2 separate regions of the Homo sapiens genome follow, and region 2 is linked to region 1. Evidence: fine-mapped expression QTL. A gene starts in region 1. The other region holds a variant in brackets. All regions are shown on one strand. Distances are between the middles of the regions. Region 1 holds the start of ADSS2 (adenylosuccinate synthase 2). Region 2 overlaps SPMIP3 (sperm microtubule inner protein 3).

Region 1 (8,000 bases):
ATAGCAAGCTTTTATAAACATATATCAAGTGATGGGGTGTGCTTTCCCTTATGACTAACTTTAGTATTTTCTCTTTTTATTGACTTTGAAGCCTTGGAGAGAATACACACGGAACACTGCTCTAGCCTTTCCCGATCACAGGCAACTTCATGTGTGTCATTATAACCAAGACCACCGAAGTTACTTTCCTCAAGAACAATAAATAAGTAAGCCTTTGCTTAAAGCCTGGTATAAACTACTATAGTTAAGAAGTTTCTGTAGCTTCTACTCAGCAAAATACAGAAAACAAAGCACAGTATTTTACTTTGAGAGAACTGGGGAAAAAACAGTATTAGGCTTCCTTTTGTGATGCCAGAAAGGGACTTTCTTGGTCCCATACTTTAACCTCTTGAGAAACGTATTAGACTAGTACCTTTCTCCATCCCGACCTTCTCAACACTTTTGCTTACACAGCAGTTGTCCCCCAGATTGTGAGCTCCTTGTGGGCACAATCCCTGCCTTTTTCAGATTTTTGACTCCCAGGCTAAGTGATCCCCTGCAGATACTCAATGTTTACTAGATGAATGACCTGTACCCAGGGTTGGGCCTCTATTTAATTCTTCTCTCTTCTTCTTAAAATAAATATTGATTTAAAATTAAGGCAGCAGTAGTGGTTGTCCTTTGATGCAAGTCCTACATATTTATGGATCTGGGGAACCTACCAAGTTATAAATAACTCCCCATAAATCCTGAATCTGAACAACACAGGCCTTAAGCGCTGTTAAGAGTGAAAACGCCACTAGGTTTGCATCTATTGTTTCCAAAAAGGCATTTTATACATTAAAATTTATCATTAAATGCAATGCCAGTTTTTCTTTTTAAAACTATATTTTATGTTGGGAGAAAGTCCTTATGAGTCTACTGGTGAAATACGGATACATTATGTGTACATCACTTCTGGAGAAACAGTACTGAATAAAATTTGAACTCATGACATAAATATGGCAGAATATATTAAACTCTAACAAAGGACATATTTTCACTAACACACAAAACTTAAGACATCAAACAAGGCAATCCAAGCTCACAATGTCTTACTGTTGATTTTTTCCAGCTCTCTATACACACTCACTAAGAACTTCAACATTCCAATTTTATAACCTAGGGGAACTTCATTAAGTAGATGCCAGCTTACTAGGGCTAACCAAATAATACAAAGTTACCAAGGTAAATCACAAAAGAGATAATGCTTAAATCTATTCATTACTCATCTATTTTTTGCTAACAAGACTAATAAAGAATCCTAATGATACACTTTTAAAAAGCACTAAAAGAACATAAGGATTCTATAAGGAAGGTAGTTAAGTCAAAAATACACAGGTGAGGGAAGTCTGCCCAACAAGGCCCCTCATTTGTTTCTCCACTATCTTCAGCTAACATTTTAAAGCCAAACTTAGTTCCTTCTCAATCACTTCTCTAGCCTTTCCAAGGGCATCAGATCAGGTTGGTCCATGACTTCAAGACTACTTTCTCGGTAACATTAGTAACACCTTCTCCAAGCTACAAACTACTTCTAATATTTCTCCATAGAATATTAAAATTGAGGATCCTTTAGAATAAATACCATAATGGTTGTGTTCTCCAAACCTTCTTACAACCCATAGTGTAGCTCAACCTGAGCTATTTCCATATTAACGAGATGTCAAGATGTCAGTGAAGGAGACACACAGGCCTCAGCCTCTCTCCCGCTGTCGACAGCAAGAAAGCTCGGTATTCGGATACGTCTTCCCCACAGCATGACCAGATCTGAATGTAAGACAAAAGGTAGGTAAAGGCTGGATTTCTGGAGTATTTCCTAAGAAAGTGCGGGGCAGGAATTTAATGGCAACACCCTGAAGATTGCTAAGGTACAAAGTGTGTTGCCAGAGGGGTGGAGAAATAATAGGCTGGAAGGGAAGGAGGGAGAGGTGGTAGTGACAGTTTCCTAAGAGGCAATTAGTGCAACAGCTATTTCAGAATGGGCAGGGTGGATTTCTAAATGAAAACAAAACAAAACGAAACAAGGTAAATCAGAGAATATTTGCAGTATTTGCATTTAGCTTTTTAACATACCTGTGATTTCATTGTTTCTGCATGCTCAAAATGGTATTCAAGGGGGCCTATAACTTACTAGAACATATACAGCATGGCACCATCATATCATGCCATGCATGTTCAAAAACAAATATTCTTGCAACCTAAACAGATAGCAGTTAACTTCAAATATTACATTATGCTTTGTTTTGAAAGTGGTTATTGCTCATCTGCTTAGAATTTTGAAACTGGAGAGAGTTATCTGAGAGCCTTTACAAAGGCCTTACCCTGTATGCTGCGTCAAAGGAAACGACAAATAGGAAGAAAGGTTACACTGAAAACCACGTGTCTCCCGTTAGAAGTACATTACCACCTCGTTTTCCGAAAGTTCACTTTCGATGTCACCTTAACAATGCAAATATTTATTTCCAAATACTCAATTTGACATCCATGTATTTACTTCCCTCACTTTTTTTGAACAGAGAAGGGATTCCTTCCTCTGGGACCAACTAGTAAAAGTAATTTCTCCTTAACTTTCATGTATGGAGCACACTGTAAAAACAAAAACAAAAACAAGAAACTCAGGGCCCTAAAACAACAGTCCAAAGCCCAGAGGTGGGTGGGTTTGGATGTCAACAAAGTGGACCAGAGGAAGCAAAGCACTGCATGCCACGGTCCTGCAGATGGGGGATCGGTGAGTCTGATTTCAGGACGTTTCGAAACAATCCACTCCCACTCCGCCGCCCTGGGCGGGGCGGGGGGGCGGTGATGGGGGGTTCTGCCGTCGCGCCGGGTCTCCGCCCGCAGTCGGAAGAGTTGGGAGCAGGCCTCGGGCGGTAGCTCCTCAAACTCGGACCGCATCCCACCTCCACCCCGGCCTCAGTCCCGGCGCTGAGCACCACTCGCCAGACGCAAAACTGCAACTGCCAGGCATCGCGCATCTCTCAAAGGCTCCCCGCCAGCCCACCTCTTCCTCCAGGGCCACCCCAAGTTTCACCCGACGCTCCAGGTCAGGGGTCCCCGACCTCCCGCCATTTCTCCACGTAGCCGCAGCTCAGGACAGGAGGAGAGAGCCTCAAGGTGACACCTCATTTTGGCCAGTGGATCCGGGTTCTGGGTCCGAGTTCCCGGGCACCAGGAGCCAGGCAGCCCGAGCTCCCGGGCCCGGCTTCCCATGAGAGGCCCCGTCGCCTCACCTGGCAGCGGCACACGATGTCGGCGTCCTGCGCCAGCAGGTCCACCACCTTCCCTTTGCCTTCGTCGCCCCACTGCGCACCGAGCACCACCGTCACCCGGTTTCCTCCGGGCCGCGCCCTGGGGCGGCCGCAATCGCCGTTGGGCAGGGAGGATGCCGCCGGGTAGGTCTCGGCGAACGCCATGGCTCCAGTGACGCGAGGAGAGCCCGAAGGAGAGGCGGCCGGCGAGGAGTGAGCGAACTGAACTGCTCTGCGGCCGCCAGCCACATGCAGAGGAAGAAGGAGCCAGAGGCCGGCCCCGCCCCCGCCCCGCCGGGCCGCCACCCTCCAGCCAGTCCCCGCCCCGCTCTCCGCCACAGCCCGCTCAAGGGGGTACCATGACTGCCCCGCGCAGGCCGGCCTCGGCAGCACCGCCCGCAGGAAGAGGCCCTGGTGGCGGCAACGGCCGCCACCCCGGACCGAGGCCACGCCCCTTCCGCGGCCTGGCGCGCCACTCCCGTGCAAACCTCGCGAGCGGAAAAGGTCAGGGGCGGGGCTTCGAGAGCGCTTCTCCTTCAGCACCCCGCCTACCCGCTCTACCTCTCGCTTTCAAACTGGAGAGGCGCGGAAGCGCGTGTGGAGCGTCGGACTACAAATCCCAGCATGCAACGCTCTGGGCTGCGGCGGTGTATTCTGGGGCCACTGTGTCTGCCATCTGCAGGTTTGTCTGGATTTGTCTTTATTAAGGAATGAATGTGTACAAAATACAAACTGTGGAATTTCGCAGTACAAACAGCATAAAATCGGAACGTGTAAGTGTAGAATTGGAAATTAAAAGTCCGGAAGTAACAGAGATGGGGACAGGGATCAAAAAAGACAAAATTCAAAAGTAAGGCAATAAGATAAAGGACATGAGACCTGAAATCAATAGATCAAATAAAGTCCTAATCCTCATTTTACATAGTAGTAACAAAGGCTCAGAGAGGAGGAGTGGATTACCTATGTCGCATATAGTACATATATGCAGATACCGTCATGCACTTCTTTATTTTTTAATCCCCACAACCATATAAGGTAGGTGATCCTCTATTATCCTTATTTTACAGGATTTAAAAGCTGGGTAACTTGCCCTAGTGAGGCTTGAATTGGTACTTCGATAATCTAAGTCCAGAGCCCATGTCCTTCCTGTAGATTCCACTGTCTCTCAGTTACATTTGTAACTAGATTCTGGTGTATACCTACTGTTCATCTAATGCCCTTTCGACACCAACACAAATTAACTATGATGTTTAATTCTGATAAAAGGTGCTTCGAAAAAAAGTGGGAATGGAATCACATTATATGTACCGTCTCCCAAATCGCCTGTACATACTGTATGTTCACTAATGGTCCCTAGAGTACACTTTAGTATTTTATTTCTAGTCAATGAGTTAAGTCAGGAACATTGAGAACCTGCTATTAACTAACTAAGTGTCCTGGGCACTGATAACATAGGAGAAATAAAGATACAATTCAGCCCTCAAGGATTCAAATTATTTGGTCTATTGATTAGTAAACAATTATAATACTATGTGATAATTGTTGTCTATCTTGGCCTTATTACAAGATCACAAACATTTTGGAAACAAGAATGCCATCTATTTCTTTCTAGTCAAATGCCCGAGGTAGTGTTGGGCAGATAGTAGATACTGAATAAGCACACCTTACTAGTCATTTCCATTCAATTTTTTAAAATCATTTATGGGAGACTGATTTGAGTAATAATAAAACTCTGGTTTCCTGCACAGCCAGCTCTACATGAATTACTCTTTCTCTATTGCCATTTGCCTGTCTTGATGAATTGGCTCTGTCTAGGCAGTGGACAAGGTGAACCCCTTGGGCGGTTACAAATTTGGGGGCTTGTCTGGCATTGCCTTTGTGGCTACCTACTCGTGGTTCAGTGGCCCCCCTCCAGCAATGGATCCAGAAGCCTGCCCAAGCGGCCACCCAGTTCTCTTGGACTGGGGGCTGACTCTGGTACTCTCTCTACTGGTGGGGTGCTGCCAACCCAGTGTGCATGGATTTAATTGCAATGGAGAAATAGCCCCGGGGAGACGTCCCTTAACTGTAACCCTATCACAGGGTGTCTGTCTGTAGCCCCATTGCAGGGCAGGGTGTCTGGATTGGTGAGTATCCTAGGTGCTGCCAACGCCTCCTTTCTCCCAACTGGTTCTGTAGCCCTATGGTGAGGTGTCTGTAGCCCCATTGCAGGGTGTCTGTTCGGCTCCTGGGGGGGTCTCATTTGGCTCTTTCTAACTAGTAGGAAGAGTCCAGGTTTGGGAGACTTCTCCTGAATCAGGAAGATTTCAAGGAGGTTTCTCAGAAGGAGAATAGGAGGATAGTTTGGAAGGGATACTCCCGGAGTTCTTGGTTAGGGATCTGATTGGGAACGCCTTCTGTCCTCTCGTCTTTGTGTGCGTTTGTATATGTGGAAGGGATCTCAGAAGAGGTTGCTGATGGAAGTCCAGCAGACCTAACTCAAAACCCTCCTTATTTGTCTGGTCACATTTGATGAGCCCTACAGAAGGCTCAACAGGCCTGTCTCGGGGTGACTATCTGCTCTTCGTCTTGCCCAGAGACCCCATTGTGAATTACCGTTCGGAGGTCATCCCTCCCCACCTGGAGTGGATCAAAGACAACAGGGACCAAAGAGAAAAAGTTTTTGAGCTTTGCCAGGCTGATATTGGGAGCTGAACGAGGTGGCTAATGTGTGTTTTGTTATGTGTGTTTTGCTGGGATGGAAAATGTTAATTCGGTTCCCCATGCAGCCCGCTGGGCAGCATCTTGCAAATTAAGAATCTCGTCTATGTTTCCATAAAACAGTAAAGGGTGATTTTCTCTTGTAAAGTGGCTTGAACCCCACAGCTATAGCACAAGCAAGCAGGGTCATCAAAAGCCACTCCATTCTTCTGGAAACTGCAGAGAAAGGGAACCCGGAAATCTGGTATGCCGGCACAGAGGGTATGAAATTCTTACCGGACCGGTTTGTGGTCTCTCTCTCTCTTTCTCAGTAAATAGTAAACTGTTTACCTCCTCTGCAAGGGTTTGATAAATGGAAAAAAGGATTTGTGAGACTAGTCTTAGGCTGTAGCAAATCTGGTGTAGTTTTGTGCTAAGAATTTGTCTTTCTGTGTTCTGTAGTGGATAGATGGGTGTCACAGGATAGAACGTGGGTTTAGGACCCCTATAAGCCTGCTTTTCAAGCCGGCTTGGCAGGCTGGTCAGTTACAAACTTTGCTACAGGTCCCTGAAGCCAATACTGTATGAAATTTCTCTGTCTTGTTTTGTGTCCTGAAGAGCTTAACTTTGTGACCATGTGGAGATACTTTCTCTTGGTTTCCACCATCTAGAAGACAGGAATTTGGGGATTTTTAGGTTAGCCCTAAGAATTTTCTTGAGCAGTTAAAAGCCTTTGCAAGCTTGAAACTGGCTTCTGTAGGCTCCTTCTGGGAAGCACAATAGAAACTGCTCAATACTGTGTAACTCAGTAGCTAAGGTTTTGCCTCTTGACAGTGGGGGGTCTGGGTTCTATTCCTGGCTTCTGGAATGATTCCCTTCTGGTTTTTTATTTCTGTAACTTTGCCATTTATTGAGGTTCCCGCGTCCCCCCGCTCCCATGAATAGCTTCTGATTTCCTGTCTTGAATTTTCCTTTCTCTAAACTACCCTGGGGGAGATTCTACATCTTGTAGAAAAAAAAACTGCTTACCATCTCTTTGAGACACCTGTGTGTCCATGGTTATAAACTTAGTTAAAACTTAATTTCAGGTGGGAAGTTACCTGTGGTAGAATTCAAAAGCCAAAAATATTGGCCGCTTGGCGTGGCTAAAGTTGGGTATAAAATTTTTAAGGGTTTTTTTTTTTTTTTAAAGAGCGCTATGGTTAAAAGTCAGCTTAATTAAAAGTGGATAAACAAGCTGTAGGTATATTTAAAAGGCCTTTATGTTTCTCTCTTCTTGGATCTTGTTTTTCTGGAAAAAGATTATTTTTCTGGAAAAAGGTCTTTTTTTCCTTCTCAGTCAACTGAATTATTTTCCTCCACTTTTTTGTTTTGCCTATCTTAATGTACACATGAGAGGCCCTGAGATAGCTTCTGGTAGCCTGGGACTCCTTGGGAAAAACAGGAGGCACCACAGACCCCGTTTTGGAAAAAAGCTCTGTTTTCCTCATGAAACCCCAAGAATTAAAAGCAGACAGATCCCTCTCAAAATCCAAGGCTCTATTCTGTTTTGCATTGTGTTATCTGACGGTTTTGAGTTTTAGGGGCATCAGAAATTACTTCTCATTCTGAGAGAGCTTTGGTGTATAACAACTAGGTAGGAAATATACTTTAGGAGTTGGCTAATAGTAGTTACGGAGGCATACTTGGCTCTTCGCACACTTGGATCAGAGAAGCATGCTTTGGCCACCTGGAAGACATGGAAACACCCCCCCGCCCCCCAACAGAGAGATGAGAATCCCATGGGGGATGGTCTAATTACAAATGGACTGATTGGCTTTGGGTTGCGTTGCAGTGAAATGCATAGTTGGTAAAAGCACTGCACTGTCTTCTCTCGAAGTATTTCCGTCCTCTTGGGATCCAGGATCCAGTGTAAAGCGGCACCCTTAATTTTAAGAATCCGTCTTTGCCTTCAGCTGCTTGTTTGGCCCTAGAAACACAAGCTTTCCTAGCCCTGTTCCTCCAGGGGCTCCACCCTGAAGCCAGTAATCCAATTAAGAAACTGGCAAACAAAAA
Region 2 (8,525 bases), 83 kb before region 1:
AGCCAACATGGTGAATTAGCATCCAACATAGAGTTGCTCTAGCCTCCACATTGGGTTTAGGGAAAGTTGTAAGAAAAAGAAGCCTCACACTCACTGCAGAATCCAAGCAAACAGGCAACTCCAAATTCCCAAAAGACCAGAAGGATATTGGTTTTTGCTTGGGAAGAGCTTTAGTGAGAAGTCTGAGCAATCCAAGCCCACATTTTGGATTGGACCATTTTACTCTGCTTGTGGGAAAACAAACTGCTCCTGTGCTTCCTCTGATGAGAGCTGACGGCACAGATGGAAACTAAGGAGCTGTTTCGCTCTTTCTTCAAGGTCCTCTATGGCACAAGAATAACAAGCCCTAGATCTGTCTTGTTGTGCTAAATTTGGTATCAGATGACAGTCCGTAAATCCTAACCCCACTCCCCCTTCACCACCTCGACGGGTCTGCAGCAGTGTAGTAGCTATAAATTTGTGACAGCAACCTCACACCATGACATGGGGGTCAGCCTCCTGTAGCCCCGTTGGCTTTGTGGCTTTGAGCAAGCCTCGTGTTTAGTTTATTTTATTTTTATTTATTTATTAGAGACAAAGTCTGGCTCTGTTGCCCAGGCTGGAGTGAAGTGGCTGGATCATAGCTCAGTCCAACTTCAAACTCCTGGGCTCAACTGATCTTCCTGCTGCCTTAGTCTCCTGAGTAGCTAGGGCTACAAGCTGCCTGGCTAATTTTTAAATTTTTTGTAGAGACCAGGTCTCACTATGTTGCCCAGACTGTCTGGAACTCCTGGCCTCAAGCAGTCCTCCCACTTGGTATCACAAAGTGTGGGATTATGGGTGTGAGCCACAACACCCAGCCTCATGTTTATTTTAATATTGAGTTATTTTAGCCATGTTTGGTCAACAAAAGAGAAGTCCTTCTTCCAGAAACTACAGAAGGAGTGAATGGATGGATGTGTCCTTCCTGGCTACATCTTAAGAATTTTCTTTTAAGACCTGATGCAGTGGCTCGTGCCTGTAATCCCAGCACTTTGGGAGGCCAAGGCGGGTGGATCACTTGAGGTCAGGAGTTCGAGACCAGCCTGGCCAACATGGTGAAACCCTGTCTCTACTAAAAATACAAAAATTAGCCAGGCGTGGTGGCACACACCTGGAATCCCAGCTACTCGGGAAGCTGAGGCAGGAGAATCGCTTGAACCCAGGAGGCAGAGGTTGCGATGAGCCGAGATCGCACTACTGCACTCCAGTGTGGGCAACAGAATGAGACTCTGTCTCAAAAAAAAGAAAGAAAGAAAAACTAAACAGATAGAATAATTGGAAGTTGTGATAAAGGAAATGAAAAAGGGTGTGAGGGAGAATAATCAGGTGGAGAGGTAGGCAGAAGGAGAATACCTTCTCTAGCCAGGGTGTTCAGGGAACAGCTCTCTCAGCAGTTGTCAGCCGAGCATGATGCTGGGTGATAGGGGCAGGGGGTGGGAGAAGGGTGCGGTCTAGGGAGGAGGAAGTGCAGGTCCAAAATCCCTGATTCATGAAAGAAGCCATGACATGATGACACAGGGGCTGGAGCTGGGAGAAGGTTGGGACGGTAGAGGCAGGAGAAGTTCCCGGAGGGCTTTGTGGCCTACAATAGTGAGTCTGGGTTTTATGCTATTATACATGCAATGGGTTGAAGGGTTTTATGCAATGGAGGGCCCTGATCCGATTTACTTTTATGAAGCTCACTCTGAGAACAGATTGTCTGAGGACAAGAGTGGGGGTTATTGCAGAGAGCAGGGGGAGGCAATGGTGAGCTGGACCAAGGGGTGGCCGTGGGCTGGAGAAGCCGTCCCATGGGAGATCCAGCCTGGAGGGGGAATGCACGGACTTGCTGATTGGACCCACAGGTCAGGAGAGGCACACAGAGCTGCCTCACGGTGCGCACTATGGGCGGAGGGTGGGGGCAACAAGACTAGTTCAGGTGCAGGAAGAGCCGGAGCCGTCAGTGTGCCCCCCAACCCACGTGCGGCTCGGAGGACAAGCCCCAGAGAGCAGAAGACAGCCCAGCCTTAGGCCTCCAGGGGCCCCAGGGCCTGCTGTGCTCAGTTCCACCCAAACCCCCGGACTCCCGGCCAGGTCCAGACACCACAGAGCACTAGGCAGGAGTGGCCAATGGAGGTTTGTTTCCATTTTCCCCAGATAAGACCACAGTTAAATAGGCCTCTCAGTGAACAAAACAGATCTCAAACACACACAGAAAGAGCAAACGCTGTGGGGAGACAATCAGGAAATACTGGAGCCAACTCCATTCCTCTCTCCCCTGCTTCCTCCTCATCCGGGTTTCAGGAAGGAAAGGTTTTTGGTTTTTTGTTTTGTTTTGTTTTGTTTTTGTTTTTTTGAGACAAAGTCTTGCGCTGTCACCCAGGCTGGAGTGCAGTGGTATGATCTTGGTTCACTGCAACTTCTGCCTCCTGAGTTCAAGTGATTTTCATGCCTCAGCCTCTCGAGTGCTGGGACTACAGGCGCCCACCACCACACCTGGCTAATTTTTTATTTTTAGTAGAGACAAGGTTTCACCATGTTGGCCAGGCTGGTCTCGAACTCCTGACCTCAAATGATCCACTCAACTTGGCCTCCCAAAGTGCTGGGATTACAGGCTTGAGCCACTGCACCTGGCCTACTTTATCTGTTTCTTTATATCCTGCCTGTCTCACCCCCTGGAATAATAATGGTAAACACTTCTGAAGCTCTTACTCTGTGCCAAGCACTGTTCTAGGTGCATCTGAACTCCTTTAACCTTCACTACTGTGAGTTTCATATGAGGAAACCAAGGCACGGTGTGGTTAAATGACTGCCCCAGATCCCACAGCTACTGACTGGCGGACATGGGACTTAAACTCACGTCTGTGCTTGTGGTCACTGCATTTTGCCACATCTCCAGGTTAGCCCTCCAGGCAGGGCTTACTTCCCTTTCTCTGCAACTCACTATCATGACCTCTGCCTTGCAGATTACCATTCCTGGTAGGCCCTGTAGGCACGGTTGTTGAAAATATTGAAATGAATGAGTGAGCAAAGTTATCCAATCGTTTATGTGTGGTGTGTACCCCTGGTGACTGATGGCACCTGAGCCTGCCCTTGTGTGGTTCTGCACAAGCATGTATCCAATTCATCCTTAAATGGCCAAGCCTCAGAGCTACGCTACAGAAAACTGAGGTTTTGGGACACTAAATAAAAGTAAATATTAAATGGTTCACACTTAGTAGTGGCCACATAAAATTCTTGTATTCATCATCATATTGGCCGGGTGCGGTGGCTGACGCCAGTGATCCCAGCACTATGGCAGGCGAGGCAGGCGGATCATGAGGTCAAAAGATTGAGACCATCCTGGCCAACATGGTAAAACCCCGTCTCTACTAAAAATACAAAAAATTAGCAGGGCGTGATGGCACACACCTGTAGTCCCAGCCTCTCGGGAGGCTGAGGCAGGAGAATTGCTTGAACCTGGGAAGGCAGAGGTGGCAGTGAGCCAAGATTGCACCACTGCACTCCAGCCTGGCGACAGAGCCAGACTCCGTCTCAAAAAAAAAAATCATATTATATGCAACTGTTTACTGGTGCCATCCCCTGGCTACAGGCTGGAGGCCTGTCACTCAGAGAAGGGCTGGGTGTGGCATTGGTTTGTGGAACCCAGGATACTCCTGAAAAGATCACTTTAAGTGGATTAAATTCAGTGTGTTGTAGAAGATCGAAGATACAGAATTTGTGTGTGATTTAAATAGACTTTTAAAACTTTGATCGAAACAGTCTCTGAAGATCCAGAGGCAACTGTGTGGTCAGCCCATCCTGCGTGGGATGATATTGGAGCAGCGTCATTTCTCTGGGGTACAACCCGTGGTTCATTGCCACACGCCAAAGAAATCAAGGACGTGAACACACAAGGAGTGAGGTTAAGAGCGGAGGTTTAATAGGCTAAAGAAAGAGAAAATCTCTCTCTTACAGAGAGAGGGAGTCGCAGTGGGTCTTCTGGTCCCTGGTGAAGTGCAGGTTTTATAAC[C/T]GAGCTTGAGGAGGTGGTGTCTGATTTACATAGGGCACGAAAGATTGGTTGGACCAGGTGTGCCATTTGCATAACGTGAGAAGAACTGGTTAGGACTAGGTGTGGTGTTTGCATAATGTGGGAAGAACTGGTTAGGACTAGGTGTGCTGTTTGCATGGCACGTGAAGAAGCTGGCCGCCCCACCCTAATCTTTTATTATGTAGATGGGTTCTCTGCCTAGCCGGGTCACGTTCAGTTGCCTGTTTTTGTTTGTACTATACACGTGGTGACAGAGAAAGGGGAAGATGGCGCCTCCATGTTGAACATGCTGGCCCTCAGGTAGCCCTTTTCTATGGGCACAGCTGCCAGCATTCACCCACACAAGTTTCCAGCTTGCTTATTCATGTCTGCAGCATGATTTTACAGGCTACTCTTTGTTAGAAAATAAATGACTTTGGGGCTGCTTTTTGTTAAAAGGGAAATTCCGCCGAGGACTCTGTTGCCCTTTCCATCTGCCTAAATAATTTCCATCTCCTGTATCAATACCAACACCTTGGGAGATGTTAGCCACCAAGTACAAATGTCTCGTTTACTCTCATGCAATCATTAAAGGAGAAGACAGTATCATTCCCATTTTACTGATGAGGAAACTGAGGCTCCCCACTCCCTTGAGGAGATTCTTGTGGAGCCGGCAGAGCCTGGGAGATGAGGGCACAGGTCTGGAGGCTTCCTAGTCCTTCCTTTAGTTCTGTCTTCTGGACTTACTAGCTCATGTCCTTAGCTAAGTTATTTACTTCCCCTGAGCCTCAGTTTCTTATCAGGCGTAGCACTCACCACATCGTCTGTGATTAGATAGTTGCCTAAACGTGGCTTTCCTGACCAGATTATGAACTCTTGAGTGGAAAGACAACATTGTCATCACTGTATCCCTAGTGCCTAGCCCACTGGAGGCACAGCAGAGCTTGCAGTGAGTGCTTTTCGTTGAGTTAAAAGCATCTTCCAGCTAACACTGCTGTGTCTTTATGGCTTTTCCTATTTTTTAGTGTACAATGTCTATTTGCTGTCTGCCCCAAAATGAGAGAATCACAGAGTTTGTATGAAAATAGCACTGAATTCTTATTAAAACAAATCATCACACATACCCTCGGGTGGCAGAATAGCGACATGGAGTTTGGAGAACTGGGTTTGATACACGGCGCTGGCATTTACTTGTTTAAGTGGACTTTACTACTTAAAAAGTCCACTTAACCCTTCTGAGACTTGGGCTATTCTTATAAAGCAGAGAGTTAATCATGTTTACCTTGCAAGGTGACTGTGAGGATTAAGTGAGATCATTTCTGTAAAAATGCTCTGTAGAGGATGAGCCCCAGCAGGGCCGTAACAGAGAAGAGCGTGGTCACAGGAACACAGGCTACCTGGGGCTGTGGGGCCAGGCTCTGGAGGGACCGACACCTCTGGCCTCTCCTATAGATATTGAATTTTGACTGTGGCTAAGCCCAGATCCCACTCCATTTACAGCCACCCTCCCAGGGAACAGGTTTGCTCTCATGTGGACTGAATACATCACCTCAAAAAGCCAAGCCATCAGGGACTCAAAATCACGCACGGTGCCTGCACCTGCCCAGTGAGAAGGAAAGGGCTTTCTACAGCTGGTTAAAACCCGGGTTCAACAGAATCACTCTGAGCAGAGCCCTGAGCTGGGCTGGCCTCCACAGCCAAGTCTGAAGAGTCCGCACGTGCTTTCACAATCATTCACTGAGGCCGGGTAATGCACAGCCTCTGGCCTGGCTAGACATTTCCCCTTAGGAGGTCAAAACTCTCTTCTCCACCCAGCCATCCCTCTCTCCACACCCATCTCCTTACACACACCTTCCCATTTTCTTTTCACTCCTCCCAAAACCTGCCAAGAGACACTGCCAAGGGGCGGTGGCAGGGAGGATTACTTGGTGCTGGTGCTGGGATTCTTTATCCTCAAATCAGCTTTTACTGACTGCTTCTAAGGAGCAGCGCTGAGTTTACTCACCTGTATTCAGCAGGTGTTTGTTTGTATGCACGCCATGGTCAAAACCCAGCCCACCGCCCACAGCCCAGCAACTGTAGAAACCAGCATCCTTTAGGTGGGTTCTTAAACTGTAATGTGGCCCTGGGGTAATATTCCAAGGTGGTGCTTCAGAAAATGGATAGGTGCCTAAGAAAGCTACGTGTCCCACCCCTGTGCATTCAGAAATGTCATTTGTTCCCTTTATTGTGCCAGTTCCTCTCTCTTCTTATGACTTAATACCCCATTGTTATTTACCATCCAGGGCTCAGTCATATTATCCCAGCCACTGGGCAGGCCCAGACAGCCTGTGGTTTTTCTGCAAATCAGAGCTCCCAGAGGTCGTCTTTGCACAGACAGAGACAGAACTCGCCCTGCTCAGTGCTTGCCTTTCATGCTAGACAGTCAGGCCCACTCTAGCCCTCATACACTCCACTCAGAACCTAATTCTGTCCATGTCTTGGCCCCTATAATTCCCTTTGCTTGGAATCTCTTCCCCAACCCCTTTGCTTATCCGAGTCCTAGATCTAGATACTCCTCCCTCTTCTGTGTCCTATGGACCCTTTATTCAGATCACTATTTCAGCATGTGAAGAGCTTTTTGAGGACAAGCGCTGCTTCTTAGTCAGCTTTGTATCTGCAGAGCCTAGCATAGTGCAGGGTGTTTTGTGTGCATTCAATAAATGTTGGTTGAGTCGAACTGAAGGCATAGTTTCAGTTTTCATCCATTATCTAACACATATTTAGTGAGATACGTTATGCAAAATGATGTGCTACTTTCTACTGACTCTGAATTTTTTTTTTTTTTTTTGAGATGGAGTCTCACTCTGTCCCCCAGGCTGGAGTGCAGTGGCACGATCTCAGCTCACTGCAAGCCCCACCTTCCAGGTTCACACCATTCTCCTGCCCCAGCCTCCCAAATAGCTGGGACTACAGGTGCCCGCCACCACACCTGGCTAATTTTTTGTATTTTTAGTAGAGACTGGGTTTCACCGCGTTAGCCAGGATGGTCTCGAACTCCTGACCTTGCGATCCGCCCGCCTTGGCCTCCCAAAGTGCTGGGATTACAGGCGCGAGCCCAGCCTCCTGACTTTGAATTTTTATGGCATCTACTGACTGCTCAGAATCTGTGGGACATCCCGAAAGACCCCACATGTCCAGGCATCACAAACTCAATAAAGTCACCTTCCCAATGATGGCCATTTATTGTGTTCCCTCTCTTGGGGAAAGGCAGGATTCTTTCCAATGCCTGAAGATGCAGCTTTGTCTTGGACACTTCCCTGTCTTTTACCCTCCATCCTATCTCCTAAAATATCCTCAATCAGCCCTATCCTCTCCATCCACATTTCCATCATATCAGAGCTTCGTCATGTCCCACATAAAGCACTACAATCACTTCCTAAGCAGTCTTTCTGCTTTTAGTCACATGGTCTTCAAATTTGTTTTCTGGCTGGGTGCAGCGGCTCGCACCTGCAATCCCAGCACTTCGGGAGGTCAAGGCGGGAGAATCACTTGAGCCCAGGAGTTCCAGACCAGGCTGGGCAACATAATGAGACCCTGTCTTTTAAAAAAAATGGTTTTCCACATTGCCATCAAAAAAGATCTTTCTCTACCATGTCATGAACCTTGTTAAACATCTCACAAAGTAGCCTGGGCAACATAGTGAAACTACAAAAAAAAATTATATATATATATATATGCATGCCAGGCATATGGTACATGCCTGTAGTCCCTCCCAGCTACTTAGGAAGCTGAAACAGGAGGATCTCTGGATCCCAGGAGTTAGAGGCTACAGTGAGCTATGATCACACTGCACTATAGCCTGGGCAACAGTGAGACTCCATCTCTAAAAGCAAACAAAACAAACAACAGCAAACCTCACAAAGATTCCTATCACCTCCATCAGTAGTTCTCAAACTTTCAGACACAATACCCCCTTTTTAATAATAGATATTTTGTAATATCTCTGCTATTCTTCTGAAATAAAATCTGTAAATAATATAAACCAACCACATATAATTTAAAAATATTAGGTTGGTGCAAAAGTAATTGCAGTTTTTGCCATTGAAAGTAAAGTCATAGCAAAAACCGCAATTACTTTTACACCAACCTATCTCATTACAGTCTTATAACTATAATATAAAAGGAAAAGCAATGTACTATAAAATGAGACATATTTCTGGCCGGGTGCAGTGGCTCATGCCTGTAATCCCAGCACTTTGGGAGGCCAAGGTGGGCGGATCACTTGAGGCCAGGAGTTTGAGACCATCCTAGCCACCATGGTGAAACCCATCTCTTCTAAAAATACAAAAATTAGCCCGGTGTGGTGGCAGGCACCTGTAATTCCAGCTACTCGGGAGGCTGAGGCAGGAGAATCACTTGAACTCAGGAGGCGGAGGTTGCAGTGAGCTGAGATTGGGCCACTGCACTCCAGCCTGGGCGACAGAGTGAGACTCCGTCTCAAAATAAATAAATAAATACAATAAAATAAAATGAG

What was found. PIP is the estimated chance that this variant, and not a neighbour inherited with it, causes the effect.
Region 2: its variant is fine-mapped to the expression of ADSS2 in sun-exposed skin (GTEx, PIP above 0.99).

The regions. Positions count from the first base shown.
Region 1 is chr1:244,448,387-244,456,386 of GRCh38, forward strand. It overlaps ADSS2 (adenylosuccinate synthase 2), which reads right to left and starts at 3,523. Exons shown (of 13, transcript NM_001126.5): 1 at 3,249-3,523. The coding sequence starts at 3,431. It also overlaps a transcript of CATSPERE not described here. RefSeq lists silencers at 2,703-2,982, 3,423-3,912.
Region 2 is chr1:244,365,623-244,374,147 of GRCh38, forward strand. All of the region lies in intron 2 of SPMIP3 (sperm microtubule inner protein 3), which reads left to right. Among named protein-coding and RNA genes, the nearest start is that of SPMIP3, 17 kb to the left of the region's middle. The variant C/T (reference allele first, on the strand shown) is at 4,013.